4 separate regions of the Homo sapiens genome follow, and regions 1, 2 and 4 are each linked to region 3. Evidence: fine-mapped expression QTL. A gene starts in region 3. Each other region holds a variant in brackets. All regions are shown on one strand. Distances are from middle to middle.

Region 1 (5,646 bases), 26 kb before region 3:
GCATCCCCCACTGCAAATTGATGCCAGATACACACTGCTGCTATGCCTTCAATTCCACCATCAGGGTCCTGCTTTCAACTTTTCCCCAGTGAACTGAAGTCAATGTCGTGATGACGATGGAGAAGCAGAGGCCCACACACAAAGGAGGTTTTTGGCCACAGTTATACAGCAAAATGGCGTCAGGACTGGGGCTCAGATGCCAAAACCATTCCTACTATGTCAGATCCAGTTAGTGGTTGACATGAATGTGTGTATGTGTGCGTGTGAGATATTAACACTTAAAAGTGCTAGGGAGACTGGGCACAGTGGCTCATGCCTGTAATCCCAGCACTTTGGGAGGCTGAGGCGGGAGGGTCACTTATAGCCAGGAGTACAACACCAGCTTGGGCATCATAGAGAGACCCTGCCTCTAGGGGAAAAAATTTTAATTTAAAAATTTAGCCAAGTGTGGTGACACACACCTTTTAGTCCCAGCTACTCAGGAGGCTAAGGTGGGAGGCTCGCTTGAGCCCAGGAAGTCGAGGCTGCAGTGAGCTATGATTGCACCACTGCGCTCCAGCCTGGGTGACAGAGCAAGACTTTGCCTCCTAAAAAGAAAAAAAGTGCCAGGGAAAGGACGCTAAGGGGAAAAGGCAGCATAGAGGGGGAGAGCTGGTGGAGGCAAGAGGCAACAGGAGGAAGGGTGGGCCACTGAGCATGGGCATTAGCCTCCCTTCCCCTTGGACAACCCAAGTGAAGTCAGCGACCCCTGACCCAGGACAGGGCTGCAGGACTCATGGGAAGCCCCAGGCTGGGGGCACGGAAGGACTGCTGGGGGGACCTCAGAGGCCAAGTCCTTCCAAACCAACCTGCTCCCTGTGCTTAAGGAGCCCAGTACCCCGAGCATGGTTCAAAGCACCTGGGCCTCTGCTCTTGCAGGTCCCTCTGCCTGGGGTGTGCTTTCCACAAGCATCCCCTTGCTTCTCCCAGCCTCATGTGCACAAATCCAGGCAGAGCAAACAGCAAGGTGACAAGAGGAAAGAGACCCATCCTGTTACGTGCCAGGCACCTAGCTGTGAGCTTGACACCCCCTCATCTCCTTGTGTCCTGACAATCCATCTTCCCCCTGGCCTGAGGACATTACCTCCATTTCACAGATGTTGAAACTGAGGCTGTAAAAGGAACCAGATCAGGATCGCCAGCCAGTGCCCAGTGGAACCAGGACTTGAACTCAGATCTGTGAGAACTCAAAGCATCTATGCCCTTATCACAGCATTTCCAAGCATCGTGGATGGGCTGACAGGCCCCTTTCATCACAAGACTGTGAAACGTGTCCAGGCAGCATTCCTTCCTCTCCCTAGGACTTCCCTTACAGCCTACCAGCACGGCTTCTCCATGGGGAAGAGCCCTCACCCACTGCCTGTCACAGGGTCCTGGGGTGCAGCTATGGGGTGAGAGGAACCAAAACTGAGAGTCTGGGGCTCATGGAATCCACCCCCTGCTTATTAGGCACAGACGGCATACTCAGTGCCTCCACTCACAACAAACCTTCGAGGTAGATATTTTCATTCCCATTTTTCAGATGTGGAAATCAAGCCATAGAGAAGCAAGGGCACTGGCCCAAGATCTCACAGTAGGAAGGGGCAGAGGAGAGATCTGAATCTGCACTGCCTGACTCTGGAGTCCAGGTCTTCAGTGACGGTCACTGTCCTTTATGTTCTGTGGCTTGCCTGCTGCACACGGGGCCCTGTGATCTCATATCAGTTGTCCCCACCTGTGCAACTTCCGCACCTTGCACATTCACAATGCTACCTCACTGACTTGGGGTACTTAGAGACTCCAAATCACCCCCCTCTGCACAGTCTCCACAGGCTGGCCAGACTCCCAGGGCAGGGAGTCTGTAGAGGCCTGTCCAGCCACATGGAGCTTTGAAAAATCCCAGAGCCCTGAGCTGCCCCAGGGTCCTCCTGCCTAGGCTGCCAGCCACGAGCACAGAGGCCTTGGAGTGCTCAGGCAGGCTCTGGCCCCTTGGAATTCCCTGGCTCCAGCCCAAGCAGCTGACAAATGGACTGGCACCACTGCCAGCAATCAGGACGGTGGAGTATGAGATCCCACCCTGTTCCCAGGCACAGGGAAGGAGGGGCAGGCTGCCCTTCCTTTTGACCCTGTCACCAGGCTGTCACCTCTCCCAAGGCAAAGCCCAAGCCTTGACCTAGGAGGGGTCTTGCTGGAAAAATTGCCCCCCACCCTACCCCACCCCACCTTCCATGGAAAACAAAAAGCTGCTCGAAGACCAGAGGAAATTCTAGAATCCTAAAAGTCATTGCTAGAGAGGCTTTAGGATCAAGGGGTCTCACACCCTCATCTTACAGGAAAAGGGAAGTGGCTCAGTGCAGCTGACAGCTTAAGCCTCACTCAGTTACAGCAAATCCACATGTGAATCCCAGCTTGGCCCTTCCCATGCTATGTAATCTTGGATTACTAAATCACAGACTCCTCGTCTGTAAAGGGGGTCAATGTAAAGATTTCATGAGATCATATACGTAGGGTGCATAGGGTGACCAGTTGTCCTGGTTTGCCAGAAACCAAGGGGTGTCCTGGGATGCAGAATGTAAAGTGCTCAAACTGGAATGTCCCAGCCAATCAGGGCCCGCTGGTCACTCTATGAACATGAAGAGACTGGCTCAAACAAACATGCCCTTTGGCTGTTATGTTTAAAGAGAGCTATGTCTGGAGTCAGCTATCAGTGAGTTTGAAACCCCCACCAGTAGAACTTCTAGAAAGACTTGTCAAGTCATTGGAAAGCTCTTCCTTTTTTTCACTACACTGACCTTGAGCAAACTGCCACATTC[G/A]TGTCAGTGTTGGTTTAGGCCCCTGGAGTCACACAGGACAAGCCAGCCACCTCCCTCCCCAGGCAGCAGCCACTTCCTCCCTTTAATCTCCGCCAGCACTTCCTCTGCATCATTCTTAACCCTTTGCCAGCCGACCCCCACCAGGCCAACTGAGCTGCTCTCCTGGGTTGGGGAGGGGTGCCACAATATGGTTTTGCTTGCAGGTTTGTCGATTTTTTATTTTTGTTCACTTAATTATTGGCGTGATGCAGCTGTGGATGGTGGGAGGTTCAAAAGAGGCTCACTTATACAGGGAACATAAATTAAAGTAAAAGAAGGAAGGGAAACATGTGTAGAGACAGAAAATGGAGTCACGGCTAAGGGTGAAATGCAGGGGACACAGAAGTTCCTAGACACTGACAGTGGCTGGACCATACACTGGAACCCCAGCTTCCTGAAAGGGGGACCCAGTTACATGAGTCACATGCTCCTTGCTAAAAACCAAACCCACTCAGGGGAATAGTAAGGCTTCCTGATGCTAGGAGCAGAAGGACTGTCTCCAGAAGCCTGTGGAGAGAAGACATGGGGGATCTGATCACGGAACGGGGTCTCCAGTTCCTGAATGTTTTAAGGGAGGCTCCAAACACTCACTGATGGACAGCACTGCCCCAAACTGCAATTCAGTAAAAGCTGCTTTTCCTAGATATGACTGTGAGTTTCAGTCTACACATCCAGGTGTATGCACTGCTGGTGTAATCCAAAGAATTTTCTAGAATATCTGAGAAGGGGCCTGAACCGTGGCCTTTAAGTCATTCTCCCTGATGTTTTTTCAGAACTGAAGCTTTGGTAGCAGTAGCAGTGATAAGTGGGACACTACTCTTTCTTTTTTCCCCCTCCCTTTTTAAAATTTTATTATTTTAATTTTTGGAGATGAGGTCTTGCTATATTGCCCAAGCTGGTCTTGAATTTCTGGCCTCAAGCTATCCTCCCACTTTGCTTCCCAAAGTGCTGGGCTTACCATCATGTTCCATCATGCCCAGCCCGAGGGACATCATTCTCTATGGCCCAGGCTCGAACACAGCCTTGTTTTTTTTTTTTTTTTTTTTGAGACGGAGTTTTGCTCTTGTTGCCCAGGCTGGAGTGCAATGGCGCAATCTCAGCTCACCGCAATATCCACCTCCCAGGTTCAATCGATTCTCCTGCTTCAGCCTCCCAAGTAGCTGAGATTACAGGCATGCGCCACCACACCTGGCTGATTTTGTATTTTTAGCAGTGATGGGGTTTCTCCATGTTGGTCAGGCTGGTCTCAGGTGATCCACCTGCCTCGGCCTCCCAAAGTGCTGGGATTACAGGTGTGAGCCACTGCACCCAGCCCAAACACAGTCTTTCTCCACACCAGCTGGGGGTGGGCCTGGGGCATCCTTATACTCACCTATCTGTGAACATATTTTATGAAACAGACAATCATGACAAAGACATACTTGATACACAGGTAGAGTGACCCTCCATCCTGGCTTGCCCACAACAATCCCTGTTTATGCTTCTTGTCATGTTCCTTTCATTCTCAAAGTGCCCCAGTCAGGACAATAAATCCTACAGTTTCCCTACTCATAGATTACTCCCTCCTCTGGCCTAGAAGCTCCTGTGTACTAGCCTTGCCCACCTACTTGTGCCAGGCCCTAAGCTAAGCACACGTCCTGTGTCATTAAATTCCCATAAGGGTCCTGTGAGGCAGGTACCACCATGATCCCCATTTGACAGATGAGAAAATGGAGGCTCAGAAAGGCTGTGGCTGCTGTTTCAGGAGGTAGCCATGTGCCAGGAACTTTCCAGGATTTAAACACCAGCTGGTTCTGCACAGATGGCTACTTTCACTACCTCTATTTTCCAGATGCAAAGACTGAGCCTTAGTTCACTGATAAAAGGGTGGCTTACCAAAGCCCCTATGGTTTCAGCCAGGAAAGGACCACAGAATGTCCAAATTTCAGAGTCAGCTTCCTTCAATCCGGGCTCATGAGCTGTGGGTCCCTGGGCAAGTGACATGGCCTCTCTGAGCCTTGATTTATCTCATTGGTAAAATGAAGATGAATCTTGCTGCTTACTGTTGGGTGAGTGAGGAGCAGACGCAGGACCAGCACTTGGACCCTGCGCCTCAGCCCAGCTCTTACAGCTCTAAGAGGAGGGGATGTGTTCCCCCCAGGAAGTTCATAATCCTCAGCAGAAACAGTGCATACTTCATGGAGTCACTGCAAAATGAAAATGCAGCCCCTTATTCAAAAATTACTGAGAATTCAGGACAGCAACTGCCAAGTGTTAAACAAAGCACAGGCCTTCTGAGCCCTGTGTGGCTGCACTGGTCGCCAGCCTGAGATGCTGGCCCTGCCCCTCAGCTCTAGGGAATTTGAGGGAAGAGCCCTCTTCACTTCAGGCCCCAGCAGGGCAGGGGCTCGGCGGGATAGGTGATCTTAGGAGGGAGGAAGAAGCAGCACAGCCAAGAAAGAGCAGAGAGAACAGAGGATGACACCTCCTCAACGTAGACAGAAAGAGAGGGGGAAGAGGGGCAGGGAGAGGAAAGCCAGCAGGAAGAGGAGAGACGCACAGGGACTGGAAAAAGGAGGACAGAGCGGTCAGGGCAAAGCAGCAAAGTGGCAGAAGAAAGACGAAGGCAGGGTGAAGAAAGTCCCCAGGAAGAGAGACCCAGAGGCAAGAAGAAAGGGACAAGGCTAAAAGGAGTCTTCTGCCAACCTCTGAGAAGGTTTAACAAGACCCCATGGAGCCACCCGGTGTGGGCAGGGAGGGGCCCCATGAATAGCTGTCCTCCTGGGGTGAGGGCCAT
Region 2 (5,646 bases), 74 kb after region 3:
GAGCTGACCAATCATTGTCACCAAGCCCCGAAACCACTGGTTTCCACAGCCACCTGGTTCCCCAGGGTGCCAAAGTCCTTTCATTCCTAGGGACTGTCATTCAGCTACATTTGGTCCCATGAGATATTCTTACCAATTCACTTTTGTTCAAAATAGCCAAGAGCTTGATAATACTGTGTCCCATGTTTCATAAGCAGAAGGCTGGAAATAAAGTGGAGAAGTACACAAAAAACCCTTGCTTCCAATATCACAGGACTTTGAGTTCACAGATCATTAGAATGAGAGTGGACTTAACTGACCAACTCCCTGCCAAGTCATTGTCCAGCCTCCCAGTGGGAAGTCTTCACCTCCCAGTGAATCTTCTTCAATGGGTTTTGCAGCTCTGCCACTTGCTGGCTGTGGAGTAAAGGACAAATCACTTTGCTGCTCTGAGGCTCAGTTTGTATATGTTGTTGCACTGTGTGTTCTGAATGAGATAATGTCTGCAAAATGCTTTGCATATATATGGTATACAGTAAGTACTCAAATAAAGGCAGTTACCATATCTTGCATGGAAACAAAATCTGCCTATTCCCAGAGCACCACCCCCACACCATCCCACTTACCTCATAGAACCAAAGGTCTTTGACAAGGAAAATGTTTCTAGGTCTTCATGTTACTAAAATAACAGACCCAGAGAGCTCCAAGAGGTAACCCAGCCTCACGTAGCCTCAAGAGGTAACCCAGCCTCACGTAGCAAGCAACTGTGGTACGGGACTTGAGTTCCATAATGTCTTGCTGGCTGGCTGGTCTTTGAGCCATACCTTCAATGTTGTCTCCAAGGTCCAAAAGGAGACCTGAAACCACCAAGATGGACAACAGGGAAGAAAATTGTTTCTTGTGGAAAAAGAAAGAGAAAAGGAAATTATTTGATACAGTGCTCCCAGATTCCATCTTGAACATGTCCATCACCCATCACCTCGCTGGGTAATTGCCCACACAGTTACTGCATTACAGCTCCAATTAGATACTGTGGCCTACATTTGGGAAACCAAATAATTCACTCTGCTAAATTTGGTGCTGGGATTCTGCATTTATAAATCCAGCCCAGCGTGAGATCCAGGACAAATAAAACTCTATTCCCTGGACAGGTTAAGATGAGGCATCCATTCTTATTACAAACCCAATTAAAGCTTCCTAGAATCACAAGATGTGTAAAGCGTTGGTGAGGCATGCCAGAGATCTCAAACCCAAATGCCTGCAGAGGCTAGGCCAGTAATGTCAATGAATGAAGACGGACAGGTGGATGCTATCGTGACCCGAGGGGTATATGCTTGGCCTAAGGAAGGAAGCCACCACTCAGCATCAGCTAATCATCGCCATGTGGGAGTATGGGCCCAGGGTTGCCACTCCCAGCTCCATCATTCACCAGCTGTGTGACCTTGGGCAAGCCACTAAACTTTTCTTGTCACTCAATTTTCTCATCCACAAAATGAAGATAATAATAGTGGCTACCTCTTAAGGTGGTTCTGAGAATTAAATATGCCATACATTGAAGTACTTAGAACATTGCTTACCCCATAGGAAGGACTCAATAACTACTAGCTTGTTGGTTGTTAAGTCAATGGTTTCAAAACAACGGATTCTTGGAGTCCATTATGGGGGCAAGGGTATTCAAGCTATTCTCAATATAGAAAGGCTAACTACAGGGGGTAAGACCAGATTGACTAAAGAATCTTTTATTTTGGCTGGTATTCTGGCATTCTAGTAGACTCTAGAAGAATTACATTAGGACTATTGCAATCAGAACCTTATTTGACTCATGATTATCTTTAACTTATTAAAATTTGGGCAACTAATTAATTCCTATTTTATGCAGTGGATTTAGTGAGCAAGATATTTTCAATTAAGGAGTCCTGGGGATAAAACAACAGGATTCTTGGTGAGCAAAAATTTGGGCACCGTTGTTCTATAACTAGAATATAGAAGATCTGGGTTTGGAATCGAGATGCTTAAATCCTTGACTTCATTATGATAATCGAAAGGAAATTCACCGATCATGGGTGGAGGATACTAGTGAACAAACTATTGTGAAAATTAGTAAATAAAGGGAAAGGAGCATGCATTTATTCTGCCTTTCCTCAAAGAACTGTACCTCAGGCTACCCAAATATTTGATAATACATTATAGATGTATTATAGGTAATAAATAAATATGGAATTATAGAAAGAGTATCACCCTTTTACAAACCCTACAAAATTAATAGATTTAGGCATTGAGCATCAATAGCTGCTAATATCACAAAAAGCACACTACCTGCTATGTCTTACAAAAAGAAATGAACATAAGTCTGATAAACCCTCTAGATCCAACTACCAATTTTCAAGGAAAACCAAGAAAAGAACACCTTAAAGAAACCATGAGACTATAGCAAAATATAGACTGGAGGAATCTTCTAGAGAAAATAACAGTTCTTCCACAATAAATTGCAAAGACCAAAAGGGTTATAAAGGAAGGGGACAGGTACAGTGATTCATTCCTGTAAACCCAGTGCTCTGGGAGGCTGAGGTGGAAGGATAGCTTGAGGCCGGGAGTTCAAGACCAGCCTGGGCAACATAGTGAGACCCCCATCTCTACAACAAATAAAAACACCAGACAGGGTGGTGTGAGCCTGTATTCCCAGCAACTCAGGAGGCTGAGGTGGAAGGATTGCTTGGGCCCAGGAGTTCAAGGCTGCAGTGAGCTATGATCACACCACTGCACTCCAGCCTGGGTGACAGAGTGTGAGACCCTGTCTCTGAAAAAAGCAAGAGAGAGAGAGAGTTAGAAAGGAAGGGGATCTACAGATTTAAAAAGACTTAGGCATATTAACCAAGTGAAACATATGAACTTTATTTGGATCCTGTGGTGGGCAGAATAATGGCCTGCAAAGATGTTCATCTCCTCATCCCTAGAACCTGTGAATACAGGTTATGGCAAAAGAGACTTCGCACA[C/T]GAGGTTAAGGTTAGGGATCTTGAGATGGGAAGATTACTCCAAGTTTTTCAGGAAGGGTCAGTCTAATTTAATGAGTCTGTAAAAGTGGAGAATCCTTTCTGGCTGTAATCAGAAAGCAATGTGACTATAAAAGAAGGATCAGAGAGGAGCGATGTAACTGGTTTAGATGGTGGAGGAAGGGAGCCACAAGCCACAGGATGTGAACAACCTCTAAGAAGGTGGAAAACACAAACAGGCAGGTTCTCCTACAGAGCCTCCAGAAAGGCACATGGCTCTAATGATGCCTTGACTTCTGCTCAGAGATATCCGTGTTCAACTTCCAGAACTATAAGATCATAAATTTGTATTGCTTAAGCCACCAAGTTTATAGTGATTTGTTACAGCAGCAATGGAAAACTAATATGGATCCAAACAAGCAAACCATAGTTTTGGGATGATCTGTGCAGCAAACCGCCATGGCACATGTTTACCTATGTAACAGACCTGCACATCCTGCACATGTACCCCTGAACTTAAGAGTTGTAAATAAAATAAATACATTTTAAAATTTTTTAAATAAAAATTAAATCATTGGGAGAAATTTTAACAGTAGATATTTGATGATTTTAAGAAATTAGTGAGCTAAGAAATTACTTGATAGTATTAAAGAATTAGCTGATCATGACATTTCAAATTTTTGGTAATCCCCAGATTTTTGTGTTTTTGGTGCAATGCTCCTGCAAGTGATGTTTTGAGTGAGTACTCACAGGAGGAAAGAGATAATGGGGGCAAAGCAGGGAAGAGGGTAAACTCTAAGCAAGGGTATGGCCAGCTAGAGAATAGCCTTAGCCTGGACCCAGAAGGATCTGTGGAGCATAAATTACATCATAGAGATGACAACACCTAGAGGCCAGGAATCTGGATTTTGTTCCTCTGTGTCAGTTACTGGCTCTGTGCTGCTGCCAGGTAATAGAGGGCTAAAGCTGACTCACCAGAGAATGAGGCGAGGTATCCATGAGGCATGCAGTCAGCACTCACAGCACCTGGAACACGGGTCCACCAGCCCATTAAAGGGATCTGGGAGGGACACCAACAGCGTCTATTACAGTCTACGCCTTAAACTGCTCCGATCCATCGCTTCTCACATTAAGTTCATTCCATGCAGCTGTAGCTTCTCTCTAGGACTCTGACTGGTCACCATTTGGAAGAAATTTTGACAAGAAGATTAGTGGGATAAACTAGAGCTTCCACGGCTGCAGGTGGTCTCGAGGCTATCACTAATACTCACCATCTCCCTCCTCCACGACTCATTCTAGATCACCCTCTCCATCAGTTAGCACTTCTGCTGGACTAAAAGGCTGGTCAGATGGAGTGATACACACCCTCATCCTGGAGGGTCTGAGCCCCTGGTTACAATGCTCTTATCAGGCAGTGGTTGCTAACTGCCCATTTTCAGTGACAGTTAGTCATGGGGGTACAAAGTAATGCCCCGGTGAAGCACCTGAGAACCAATAATATCTCTCTCTGTTCTCATGGTGTAGCTGCAGCCCAGTCTCATCATGATAAGAAGGGCCAATGCCCTGTGCCAGGATGGTGACTATTTTCTTTGCCTTATGGTCTTCTCAAAGTGCCCAGATGGCAGGCATAGATTTATGTTTGCTTTTATTGTGTCCTCTGGTGGAAATTGCCCCCGCTGGAAATTATAATCTTGAGGTTCACAGAGCCTGATGACACCACACAAATCCTCCAAGCTCATCACTAGGAGGTATGGAGAGCGAATCAATGCCAATTTTCATTTCTTGGCTCTCGAACCCAATATTCTACCTCTTAATGACACAGCAAGATATAATGGCCATTGATTTACAGAATATTCTGCATCCATAAGGCTAGTGTGCCAAACTTGCAGGGTGTCATCTCTAAGCTAACAGATCAGCTATGCGTTCAGTGGGCCATTCCACTGCTCTAACAGATGTACCCGCCTCTGGATAATGCAGAATACGGTAAGACCAGTGGATCTTATGGTCATGTGCCCACTGCTGCATCACTTGGCACAAAGTAGGATTCTACAGTATCACATGATGGCACATACATATGAATCCTTAAACAGCAGTGTTGGCTGAGGCCCTGAGAGCAGGAAAGGCAAACACACACCTGGAATACACGTCAATCCCAATCAAGATGTCCACAGTGTAAAAATCTAATACAGTCAATTTTTCACTCTATCATGTCCACATCAGGTGCGGATGGTTTCCTCCAGGGATTATATCATGTGGGAGACAGCATTCTCTCTGTTGTGAGAAGATTAGTGATTGAGCAACAGCAGTACCTGGATCAGCCTTGGTAAGACAGATCATGGTGTTTGTCCCATGCATCATCTCCATCTCTGCCACCACGGCTACTCCGTGGTGCAAACCCTGGGTTGGCCACAGAGAGAGAATAGCTGACACCTACTGGCTAAGTCATCCTGTCCATATGATTTTTTTAGTGCTTTTTTCACAATAGATGTCTTCTGGTTGGCATCAAAATACGAAATAAGGCCAGGGCATGGTGGCTCATGCTTGTAATTCCAGCACTTTGGAAGGCTGAGGTGGGCAGATCACCTGAGATCAGGAGCTCAAGACCAGCCTGGCCAACATGGCAAAACTCTGTCTCTACTAAAAATACAAAAATTAGCCAGGCATGGTGGCAGGCCT
Region 3 (5,646 bases):
TTTGAGAAGCTCTGAGTCTACTTCATAGCCTCGCAACTGGCGGTAATGTCTGCACCCATGTGGTGTAGCTCAAAGAGAATGAAATAAGCTTTTGGTTTTCTTGTACATCAGTGGGAATAAGAGCATTAATAATCCACTAAAGAAATCAATAATAATTTCCATTTGGCTCAGATGAGTGTCACAGGTATAGACAGGCACAGTGGAATAGAAATGATCATCAGAACAATAGCTAATGTTTATAGAGACCTTATTTTACAACAAATCCTCTGCTTACAGCTTTACTTGTATGATCTCATTTACTCTTTAGAATAATCTTATGAGGCAGTTACTGATCATATTCCCATTTTATAGATGAGGAAACTCAGGCACAAAGATGAGGAATAACTGATTCCATGTCACTCAGTTGGCAGGTGGCAGGCCAATTCAAGCCCACCCCCAGAGTGATAATAATATCAAATAATATCATCCTTATTTACAGATGATATTATTGTGGCCAGAGAGTGGGAGTACCTTGCCTAAGACCAAGGTGCCCCTTCTTGCACAATGTTCTACTCCCTTTTGTGGGGAGGTCTAGCATCAGAACTCTCCAGGCTTCTGTTTCCTAATCTGTAAAATGGGCATGTTAATAGTACCTTCATCATGTGGCCATGGTGAGGATTTGATAAAATCATCTCGAGAAAGTGGTTTGCAAACTGAGAGGAGTTATTAGGTAAACATCTAAGAGATGGGACTTCAGTCCAACTTCCCCCACCCCATTTTACAGATGGTGAAACTGACACCTGGTTACTTTATTTATTCCATGAACAATGACCCTAATATATGCTAGTTCTTGTGCAGGGGACTGAGGATGCAGAAAAAAAGTAATATCCCAGATCTGGCCTCTAGGGGCCTCCCGGCTAGAAGGAGAGACAGACAAGATGACTGGTCATTAGAACACGGTGTGGTAGGAGCCGTGATAAGGGAGGGATAGGCCCTGGGAGAGCCTAGCAGACAAGCCCTGACCCAGTGCGGGTAGGGGACTTCTCAGAACAAGTCAAGCCAGAGAAAGGCATGACTTGCCCAAAGTTAAGGTTATCTGTTCCCTGAAGTTTTGGGGGAGTCCAAAGAAGGCCCCTGTGCATCAAGAGATAACTCTCCTGTGGACCTCCCAAGTGTATGACACATCATCATTTGAGTGCCACTGGTTTAGGTTAAAGAAAAGGCCAAGCTGCCTCCTCCTGCACCAGAGGCCTGAATGACCCAGTCACACTCACCTCAGCAGCCAAGGCATTTAGAGGAATCTTACCTTCAAACCAGTTTGGAAGGGGCAGGAGATACAGCAAGAACCACAGAGAAGATTGGTCTTGAGAAGGAGGTAGGGGATGCAAAAGGGAAGTTGAGGGCTTTCCCTAATAGAAAAAGAAAGACTCAGAACCTGGACGTTCAGGCGTGTGACCTCAGACCAGTGATCTGGCATCTCTGAACCGCACAGGTCTGAGTGATTGGGCTTATATCAAGTAGTAGTTCCCTGATGTTGTAATGCTTATAATTTTGCCAAAGCTGGCTTGCCCATTTAAAATGGGCTATTCTGAAGACAGAGGAGGGAGTGGAATATTTTCAACAGAGAGTGCCGGCAAAGGTTTTGTGTCCTTTATATACAAAGAACCCTTAGATATCAATTGGAAAAAGATAAACATGCCCCCAGAGGAGAAAAAAATGGGAACAGACTTGAACAGGAGAGTCAGACTAGAAATGTGAAAAATAAGTTTATAAAAGAGAATCAACACTAACAAAGAAATGAAATGCCTATTGAAGCATCTAGATATTATTCTCGACTTCACATCAGGGAAAGTTTAAGGGATGGGTAGCAACAAGGTGGGTTTAGTATGTGAGAATACTGTGCCCTGGTATAACATCGTAGAGAGGTCAAGCTGCCACGGCCTTCCAGGGTGCAGTGTGACCAAAAGCTCAGAAGTCTTAAAAATAGGCAAACCTTAAATCTAGCAATTTCTAAAAGGTATTCATAAGACACACACACAAAGATGTCATACTAAATATTCATTGCAGCACTGTTCTAATAAAAAAAAAGAAGCAAATCTATTATGGAAAAGTCAAATAATCTTAAGATAGCCTTTCTATGCAGCCATGAAAAATGTATATTGGAAGAATATAGGTGATATGGAAAAAAGTTCACAATCTGTGGTTAAGCAGGTTACCAAACTAGATGTGGAAATCCACATTCATATATTTAGTTGTGTATCCTTGCTATTTCTTTAAACAATGAACATGCATTACTTTTGACATCTGAAAATAATAACAAAACTCTTCCTTTTAACAAATATGAAATTATAAAAAGAAACAAACTTTTCTCTCTGTTAGTATTCATTCCCCTTCCCTGGCCCCCCTCAGAAGACACCCAAGGCAAGTGTGTGATGATACCTTCCCTCTGGTCTCTGCCCGGAAGGTCTTCCTGAGGGTTCCCTGTGACTGCAGGCCACTCGAGGCTGTTGGGGAGACTTGCACACCCTGGCTTCTTTCTGCCAATCACAGGCTCCTCTGGCTGTGGCTGTTTGCCCAGAAAGCAGTTCATTCATTTGTTCATTCAAGATCCCCCTCTGAACCCCCAGAGCGCCGCAGCTGGAACACCCCTATCACCCGGAGGCTTCCCAGGGAGCCTGCTCTGTCCTGAGCTCCCTGCTGGCCGCCGGGGCTGCTTCCCTGAATGGGACTGGGACAGAACTCAGCCAGAGAAACAGCTGGAGGGAGGAGAGCAGGAGGGAGGGGCAGGAAACTGGGCTGACCTAGGGCGGGGGCGGCTAGCTGCGTGGAGAGGGGGCTGCGAGGGGAGGGTGCCCCTACCAGCCGGGGACTGGGCTTGTGGGTGGCGGCGGGGGCCCGCTGGGGACGACCCGCCCCTCTGGCAGCCTCTTGCAGCCGGGGAGCCGTGCCCACTGAGCGCAAACAGGGAGCACATCTGAGCACCCGGCTGCTGGGGGAAGTGCAAGCGCCTCTGCTCCCGGTGAGGGGCTCAAGCTCCACACTGACCGAGAGATTGGCTGCCTCTCACCCTGGGCCTTTGCAACGCTGTTCCTCCCACCTGGATGCTATTCCTGCCCTAATTCGTGGCCCGATGGTCTCCTACTGCCTCTTCAGGTCTCAGGTTGAAGGTCACCTCCCAGGGAAGCCTTCCCCAACCCTCGGGGGCTGCTGTGCCCCTCAGGGTCACCCCATCACCTCACTGATGCAGTGCTGTCCTTGCCTGTTAAGATGTCTCTCTCCTTGCACCGAGAACTCCTTGCACCAGGAACTCTGTAGGGAAAGAACTGTATTCTGTTCCCTGCCCTAACCAGGCGCTAAGTGCCTGGTTCATCGGCTGTGTGGTCACCATCATTAGTGGAATAATCAAAACAACCGACAGCCAGGCAGCGTGCTAGGCGATGCGTACTTACTCTTCACGGCAACCCTAGATAACAGGAATTATTACTACTCCAGTCTTACCAATAAGGAAACTGGGGTACAGAGAGATTAAGTCACTTGCTCAAGACCACACCGCCAGCAGCTGACAGAGCTGGGATTCCAACTATGTTGTCTGGCTCGGAGGCCCACCCTTGGCCTCCAGACTGAAGAAATAACAGAAGTGCCCATGTGGGCCCCTGTGCCAAGTGCTTCCATGGAGTAAGCCGTGTGAACCACCACCCACGTCGGGGGGGCATCACTTGCCCATTCTACACATGAGGATGCTAGGGCCACAGAGCAGAAGTCGTTTTGCCCAGGGCGCCAAGCTCATGCTGACCGAGCCATGGCTGGATCTGAGTCTGTCTGATTCCAAAGCCAAGACTGCCTACGACTGCCTAAAATAATATTTTTAGAAAGAAAAAGAAAAGGGAAGGGCAGGGGAGGGGAAGAGAGGGGAAGGGAGGAGAAGAAAGAAAGGAAGAAAAGGGAGGGCAGGGAGGAAGGTAATGGGGAGGAGGGGAAGGTGAAGGGAGAGGGAGATGGGGAGGGAGGGAGAGAAGGAGAGAAACCTGTGTTTTGGGCCTCAAAGTCTTGGGCAGGTGGAGGACTATGTCCTCATCGTCTGATCAGCCTTAGAACCCCACCGACCTCTCCCCACCATCCTCAATCCTTTAATTCAGTGAGCTTTACACTTAGAAACCATCTAATTTCATTCTTCCATTTCACAGATAACTTGAAGCCCAGAGAGATTGAGTCTCTTGCCTGAGGTCACACAGGTCTCTATAGTCAGAAGTCAGGCCCAGTCTACCCAACTGTCTTCCTTGCTCTCTTCTTCTTTGGGCTTATCTAGGGAACAAAACATCATATCGAAACACTTACTGTACAGATGAGAACACTGAACCCAGAGGAGGCAAGGGACTCACCCAAGGTCACCCAGAAGTTAGTAATTGTATTGGTCCGTTCTCACACTGCTGTGAAGAAATACCCAAGACTGGGTAATTTATAAAGAAAAAAGGTTTAATTGACTCACATTTTCGCATAGCAGGGGAGGCCTCAGGAAACTTACAATCATGATGGAAGGTACCTCTTCACAGGGTGGCAGGAGAGACAATGAGTGCCAGGCAAAGGGGGAAGCCTCTTATAAAACCATCAGATTTCATGAGAACTCACTCACTATCATGAGAACAGGATGGGGGGAAAACCACCCCCATGTTCAATTACCTCCCACCTGGTCCCTCCCATGACTCGTGAGGATTATGGAATTCCAATTCAAGATGAGATTTGGGTCGGGACACAAAGCCAAATCATGTCATTCCCCAGGTTCTCCTGGTGAAAGGAGAGGATATTTCCATAACGTGGCAGGGATCTTGTATATCACCATCTAATAGAGACCAGAGGTTCCTAAAGTCTAGTTTCCATACCAACCCCAGCAGCCTCACCCAGAAGTTTGTTAGAAACACAAACCCTTGGGCCTCACTGCAGACCTTGGCAATCAGAGACTCCAGGAAGCCATCTGGGTTTTAAGAAGCCCTCCAGGGGATTCTGATGCTTGCTCAAGTTTGAGATCCACTGACATAGGCATTTCAATTAGGAATCCATTGAAATGGGCCCTGGAACAAGTCACCTTGCCAATGCACAGAATAGTGGCTAAGAACAGAGGCTTTGATAGCAGACGGACCTGGTTTGAATTCCTGTCGCTGTCACTGTAAGCTGTGTGACTTGGGCAAGGCCTTTCACCTTTGGAGTCTCAGTTTCCTCATCTGCTGTGGACAGTGGAAGAGGAAGAGGAGGAAGAGGGAAAGGGAGGAGGGAGAGGAAAAGAGGAGGAGGGAAAAAGGAGAGGAGGAGGAGGGAAAGAGGAGAGGAGGAGGAGGAAAAAGGAGGGGCCAAGTAGAGGAGAGGGGAGGGGGAGGAGGAGGAGGGAAAGGGAGGAGGGATATGAAAAGAGGAGGAGGGAAGAGGAGCGGAGGAGGAGGGAAGAGAAAGAAAGGGGAGGAGGAGAGGGTGGGGGAGGAGGAGACGAGGAGGAGGGAGTAAGGAGGAGGAGGGAAAGGGAGGAAGGAGATGAAAAGAGGAGGAGGAAGGAGGAAGAGAGGAGGAGGAGGGAAGAGGAGGGGTCAAGGGGAGGAGAGGGGAGAGGGAGGAGGAGAAGAGGGGGAGGGGGTAAGGAGGAGGAGGGAAAGGGAGGAGGGAGATGAAAAGAGGAAAAAG
Region 4 (5,646 bases), 34 kb before region 3:
TCCATGTGCATCGTTTTTGGATATGTCTTCTTTCCCCAGAAGCAAATCCTCAACTGACGATTCTGGCAAAAGTGATTTATTAAGGAAGCATTTCAGGAAAAACTGGTGAGGGAGTGAGGAAGTGGGAGGAGGCCAGGCAGGGGTGCAGCATCCCACAGCGTCCTACAGAGGGTGGCCTTGGCTCACACCCATCAAGGACCCTGGGAACAGTGCAGGTCACATTCCAGGAGTATTTGCATGCCTCCGCCCTGTCCTGGAGTGTGCATTCCCAGCCACTCCCAGCCTCAGGTCAGTTCAACAAAGAGCCACACAGGTGCTGGCTATCAGGACCCTAATAGTGCTGTGGTACATTGAGAACATGTCTGCAAAGCGGCAACACACGTTTTGCAAGAATCCAGCCAAATAGCCAGACGCACATTGAACACATTAGAATGGCTCCATGGGAGAGAGGGTGGGAGGGGTCACGGGACTGGGAAATAGGGCTACTGGGAAATGAGCACAGTGAAGAAAGAAAATACAAGCGCAGGGACTTCTGGGGGCCCCTGATGGAGAAGTGGAGGGATGGAGGGGTATAATTATGTCAACCCTCCCTCCTCTCCTGAGGTCCAGGAAACCCCAAAACAAACAAACAAACACTCCGATCCCTGCCTGGGGCTCATGCTTGGGTGGTGCCCAGCTCAGAGTCTTGGTTACTGAATCCCTGACCGAGCCACAGTGGCCAGGCAGGGGGCCAAACATGCAGCCCTCAGAGCTCCACCCGTTTTCCCCGTTAGGCGGGAATGAACTTGGACCGGCCAAAGGAAGTAACAACGTCAGCCCAGCCAGGAGAGGCTGTGCAAAGAGTCCTGGGCCCTAGTCCTTCCTCGTCGAGCCCAGCCCCTGCTGGGGGTGGGATGGTCACCAGGCAGACAGTTGTGTCCTGCCCACACCCCCGCTGCCGGACCCTTGCTGGGAAAGGGACAGGGCCTCAAGGTCACATCTGGCTTCTCCTGCCATGCAGAACAAAAGCCTCCAATGGACATTATTGGCTTAAGTTTTATTAAACAAATACACGTACAGTCCTCACTACAGTCCAGCCACTGTTGTAAGCACTGCTACTAATGAGAAAACAGGCACAGAGAAGGTAACTAACGTGCCCAAGGTCACACAGAGAGCTCAGGTAAGTAAGGTAGGTCCAATTAGCCATTCTGAAGGAATGCTCAGAGACAGGCTTCAAGCCCAAACCCTGCTGAATTGACAAGCTCACTCTCTGTCCACTGCTTCGCCTCCTTGGAACATTCCACAAAACTCTGGCTTTTGCCCCAGTGGAACCTCCCAAGGGCCCCCAGAAAATCAATCTGGCAAGATTCAGGGTGTGCATTTTACAGACGGAGCAAGGCAGGGCTCCGGGTCCCCTGCAATTTTCTCCCCCAGGTCCCTCTGCCTCTGGTTAATAGCCTGAATGTGAAATGCCTCCAATCTCGGTTACAGGAGAAGCCTTTGGAGGCGGGGATCATTCATTTATTCATCCATCCTCCAAGGACATGTGGAGCCTTCTGCGCCCCAGAGCTGGTGTGGCTGCTGGGATGCAGCACACCGTGGGTGAGAGCACACCTTTTCTCTCTGCAGCCTCCCCCTAACCCTGCAAGGTCACTGGTATCAGTCCCACTTTACCAACGGGGATGTCTGAAGCTGAGGCAGGGGAGCAAGTAGCTTGCCTCACACCTGCCTGGTTGGTTGATCGATGACAGTGTTAAGCAGGGATTGCAGGGCTGGAGGACAGCAAGGTTGGGTGTTTACCCTCCAGCTCCTTCCCTGTAGGGTCTCCATGGGTCGACTTGGCCACAGCTATACTCTCCAGGCACCAAGAACCACTGCTCCCTCTTGCCCCTCAGCCTAGAGACAGTGAGTTCTCCTTGCCATTACCAGGACTGGGATTCAAAACCCAAGTTCATATGGATCCAGGGCCTCACCTCCTCTGGCTGTTCCCCTGCCGGTGTGTGTCCTATGGGCTCAGTGTACAGCAGGGCCGGGGACCATCTGGGCAGCAGATATTTACCTTCTGCTTCCTTGATTAAACCCCTTTGCCCAATGGGTTCTTTACATCGCAAAGCACTGGCTCCTTTTCTGCCCTGGTCTCTCTGTCCTTTGTCTCTTTCCCTGCTTCCACCTCTGTCCTGTTCTTACTCTCCTCTGTCTCATATCTGACTTGTTCTTTCTGCCTCTCTCTCTCCCCCAGTCTCTGTGTTTGCCTCTCTTTGTTCCTGGCCCTCTCCGTCTCTTCCATCTCTCTGCAGTCTCCCTGTCTTCTCAGTCTCCACCTCCTCCTCTCTCTTCCCATGTTTTCTCCACCTCCTGCACACCGGTCACGGGTCAGCCCTCCCCCTCTGACAGGCTCGGCTGCCCCTCACCTGCAACATTCCTCACCTGTGCGCCTAGCCAGCCCAAGCTTCCAGCAGCCACTCTGTCAATCTGCTGTCTCTTTCATCGCAGGCTACCACTAACCTCTTCCTGAAAGCAGGCCACAGGCCAAATGCAGGGGCTTTATCAGGGCCTGTGGGCGTAAGAGCCCATCAGGGAAACTGGAAACATTCCTCGCTCTGCAAATGACCATGTTTGGCCTGGCTCCTGTCCCCATCTTCTCCCCACATGACCCACCCTGACAGTCCAGCCAGATGGCTCAGACACCTCTCCTCCAATTCTGTCAGCCTCCAAAAGGAGCTGGGAGGCCCCTCGGAGGACCATCTCTTGTAGCAGGGGAAACTAAGGCCCAGAGAGTGCATGACCCTCTCTAAATCATAGAAAAGAGGGACTTGGTCTCTCTTGTTTATGGTGTATCCCCAGAGCCTAGAACTGTGCCTGGGACTTCCATAACTTCTGCCTCAGTGTGATCCACATAGACCGTTCCATAGATTTGCAAATAGGGACTCAGAGAGGTGAA[G/A]TGACTAGTCCAGATTCACACAGCCTTTAAGCATCAGCTCGGGATTTGAACCAAGGACTTTTTGACCCCAAAGCACAAGATCACAGCCTCAACCAGCAGCTGAAATGTAATGAGGCGGGCCAGTCACCACTCTTGCCCTCAAAAATGTCTCTCCTGAGCAGCATACCAGCCTCCCCCTGGCCTGGACGACTGTAGGTGCTGATGTCTTTGCCTGCTGCCTTCTGGGCCAGTCCATTCACCAGATCTCCTACCCTCCAGGGCAGAGAGAAGGGGCCTCTCATCTCCCAAGGATGGCTCCAGAGACACCTCCAGATCCCTGTATCCCCAGGCTCTGACAGACTCGGGAACCTGGAAACCACACAGTGTCTGCAGATGTTCCAGCCACAGGCCTGGCTGCCAGCCCCAGGACAGAATTAGCTCCGTGTCAGGAGAGAATTTCCTCCCTGGTCCCACGCCCACATGTGGGAGCTCGCACTGAGTCACTGCAGCAGAGCAGAGCGGCACGGGCTGCCTAACAGACTGTCCCATTTTCTTTCGGGTTTGGAAGGGGCCACGACGGAGCTTAGGACTCCATAAGAATGGGCAAAAACAAGGAGCTTATGCCCCTGAACCCAGACAGCCCACCTGCTTAGAGGCCAGGAAAAGCAGCTGATGAGCTCACCGACTCAGGGAGACCCCCCCACCCAAAATATTCACGCCACTGCCTGGCATCCTCCCATTAGAACACTACTCCTTGAGCCTTAAAAGCGTTTCCTTCCTCTCCGGGGATCTCTGTCTCCAGATCCCTGTCTGTTCTGTGCCCTACAGGCTGACCTGCTTGAAAATCTCAATAGGCTGTTTGCCCTCTGACCTCTGGTTTGATCCACAACTGCAGGCGTGGAGCGTGCGGTTGGGTACAAACCCTCCAGCTCCCTCCTTGTCAGAGGTGTGCGGGTTGGCCACAGCCACACTCCTTGGGTGCCTTAACTACTTCCTGCTCTAGCCCCTCAGTCTAGGAACAGTGAGTTCTCGCCTTCACTGGACCCGGAGCGTGGTAGGGATCCCTTGTACTGTCTACCCTTTTGTCAGTCCTCCCCTGACTAAGTTCTCGTTAATCACCTCATTTGAGTGGGTTGTCCATCTCCTGCCAACACTCTGACTCAGAAACCAGACTCTCCACACTTTCCCCTCCCTCCCTACCCACACATCTATCAACAAGTTCTTCCCATTTTGTCCTCCCAACAACTCACAGCTGTGAGCATCACCTCTGCTTACCTATGTGGCTACCAGGGGCTCCTAACTGGTTAGAAACCTATCTACCTAGTACACAGACCATTTTATTCCTAGTAGACAAATCTTTTCAAGAAGCAAACCACATCATGTCACTCCTTGCTGAAAACCTCTTAGCACCTCCTTGTTCTTAGAATCAAGACCAATGCCTTACTATGGCCTGAGCAATCTAGACCCTGCCTACCTGAGGACTGAGCTGAGGCTCGAGCCCAGACCCAGACGGAACCAAGTTCCATGAGAACACGCCCTTGCAAACTCAGCCTCATTACTTTATTGGACACCTAGCTGCCCTTGTAACCATCTCCCCAGCAGCCATTCCTAGTCACAGAAGGTCCCCAGCAAGAGCATTTGATGGACATCTGTCCTTCCAGGCCAGGAAGCCCCTGTAGCCCCCAATAATGGGTCCCGTACACAAGCCCTAAGTATCTTCCCAGCCATCCAGCTTGTGCCTCTCCCCATAAACACCGCCCCAGCCCCTGGAGCTGGCCTGTAAACAAATTTTCTCCCCTGCGCATATCCCACTGGACTGGGAGGTCCAGCACCATATTTAGTTAATCCCCTGACGTCAGCCTTGGGTCCACTCTTGCAAATAATCCCCAAGCTATGAACACATTGTAGCCAAAGGGTGGCTGGTGCTGGGGATGCTTACAGCTTGCTCAGGATGTGGTCAAGAAGGCAGCTGGGGTGAGTGACTTCTGCCCATGCTGGGAGCCAGCCTGTGGCACGCACTTGGTGTGCTGTTCTGGGTGTGGGCTTGGAATCTCGACTCTGGGAGGCAGCGGAGGCCCCACATGCCTCCAGAAGCGCCCCCTGAGAAGTCACTCTTCTCTTACAACCAGGTCAGCACAGCTCACCCTCTGCCCTTGCTTCTCTTCTCTGGCACCCTGAGATACCTGAAAAGTGGCAACTCAAGAAACTTACCCAGCCACAGGGTCCCAATCTGCCAGCGGGTGGGGAGAAGGGCAAGGAGGTGGAGAACCCAGACTCATCCGCTCTGGAGCCCTTGTGTTTGAGTCCCATGCCTCGCTCCTTCCTTTCTGTTGCTCTGGTGAGCTGGATAAGGAAGCCATGGCTTCTGCCATTCCCAGCTTCAGCTCAGCCTCCCACCTCCCCAGCATCCCTACATCCTCTGCAAGAGGCTCTGCAAAGCGTGTTTCACTTTATTCAAGTCCCTCAGCTGAAACCAAGCTATTGTCTGGCCTCAGTCGGGACAGGGCATTAACACCTAACAAGGAGGTGGTCCTGGCTGGGTGACCTGGATCTGCTCTCCACACCTCCAAGTCTCTTTTTCCACTTCTGGGGCATGTGGACCACCCAACATACCATGATGGTGAAGGAGAATAACCTCTGTGGCACACCTAGAAAAACAGCCAGCCCTTCATCAGGTCACAAACAATGCCAGTTGCCCATTATTCTCATTTCACAGATGAGAAAACTGAGATTCAGATTCAGTGAAG

The links. PIP is the estimated chance that this variant, and not a neighbour inherited with it, causes the effect.
Region 1: its variant is fine-mapped to the expression of CMKLR1 in whole blood (TOPMed, PIP above 0.99).
Region 2: its variant is fine-mapped to the expression of CMKLR1 in whole blood (TOPMed, PIP above 0.99).
Region 4: its variant is fine-mapped to the expression of CMKLR1 in tibial nerve (GTEx, PIP above 0.99).

The regions. Positions count from the first base shown.
Region 1 is chr12:108,311,039-108,316,684 of GRCh38, forward strand. The region is part of intron 2 of CMKLR1 (chemerin chemokine-like receptor 1); the gene reads right to left. Among named protein-coding and RNA genes, the nearest start is that of CMKLR1, 25 kb to the right of the region's middle. RefSeq lists silencers at 5,094-5,388, 5,494-5,646 and an enhancer at 5,504-5,646. The variant G/A (reference allele first, on the strand shown) is at 2,832.
Region 2 is chr12:108,410,284-108,415,929 of GRCh38, forward strand. No RefSeq gene overlaps it. Among named protein-coding and RNA genes, the nearest start is that of LINC01498, 61 kb to the right of the region's middle. The variant C/T (reference allele first, on the strand shown) is at 2,974.
Region 3 is chr12:108,336,609-108,342,254 of GRCh38, forward strand. It overlaps CMKLR1 (chemerin chemokine-like receptor 1), which reads right to left and starts at 2,703. Exons shown (of 4, transcript NM_001142343.2): 1 at 2,419-2,703. RefSeq lists an enhancer at 2,136-2,759 and a silencer at 2,867-2,986.
Region 4 is chr12:108,302,374-108,308,019 of GRCh38, forward strand. The region is part of intron 2 of CMKLR1 (chemerin chemokine-like receptor 1); the gene reads right to left. Among named protein-coding and RNA genes, the nearest start is that of CMKLR1, 34 kb to the right of the region's middle. RefSeq lists enhancers at 1,201-1,722, 3,293-3,814. The variant G/A (reference allele first, on the strand shown) is at 2,921.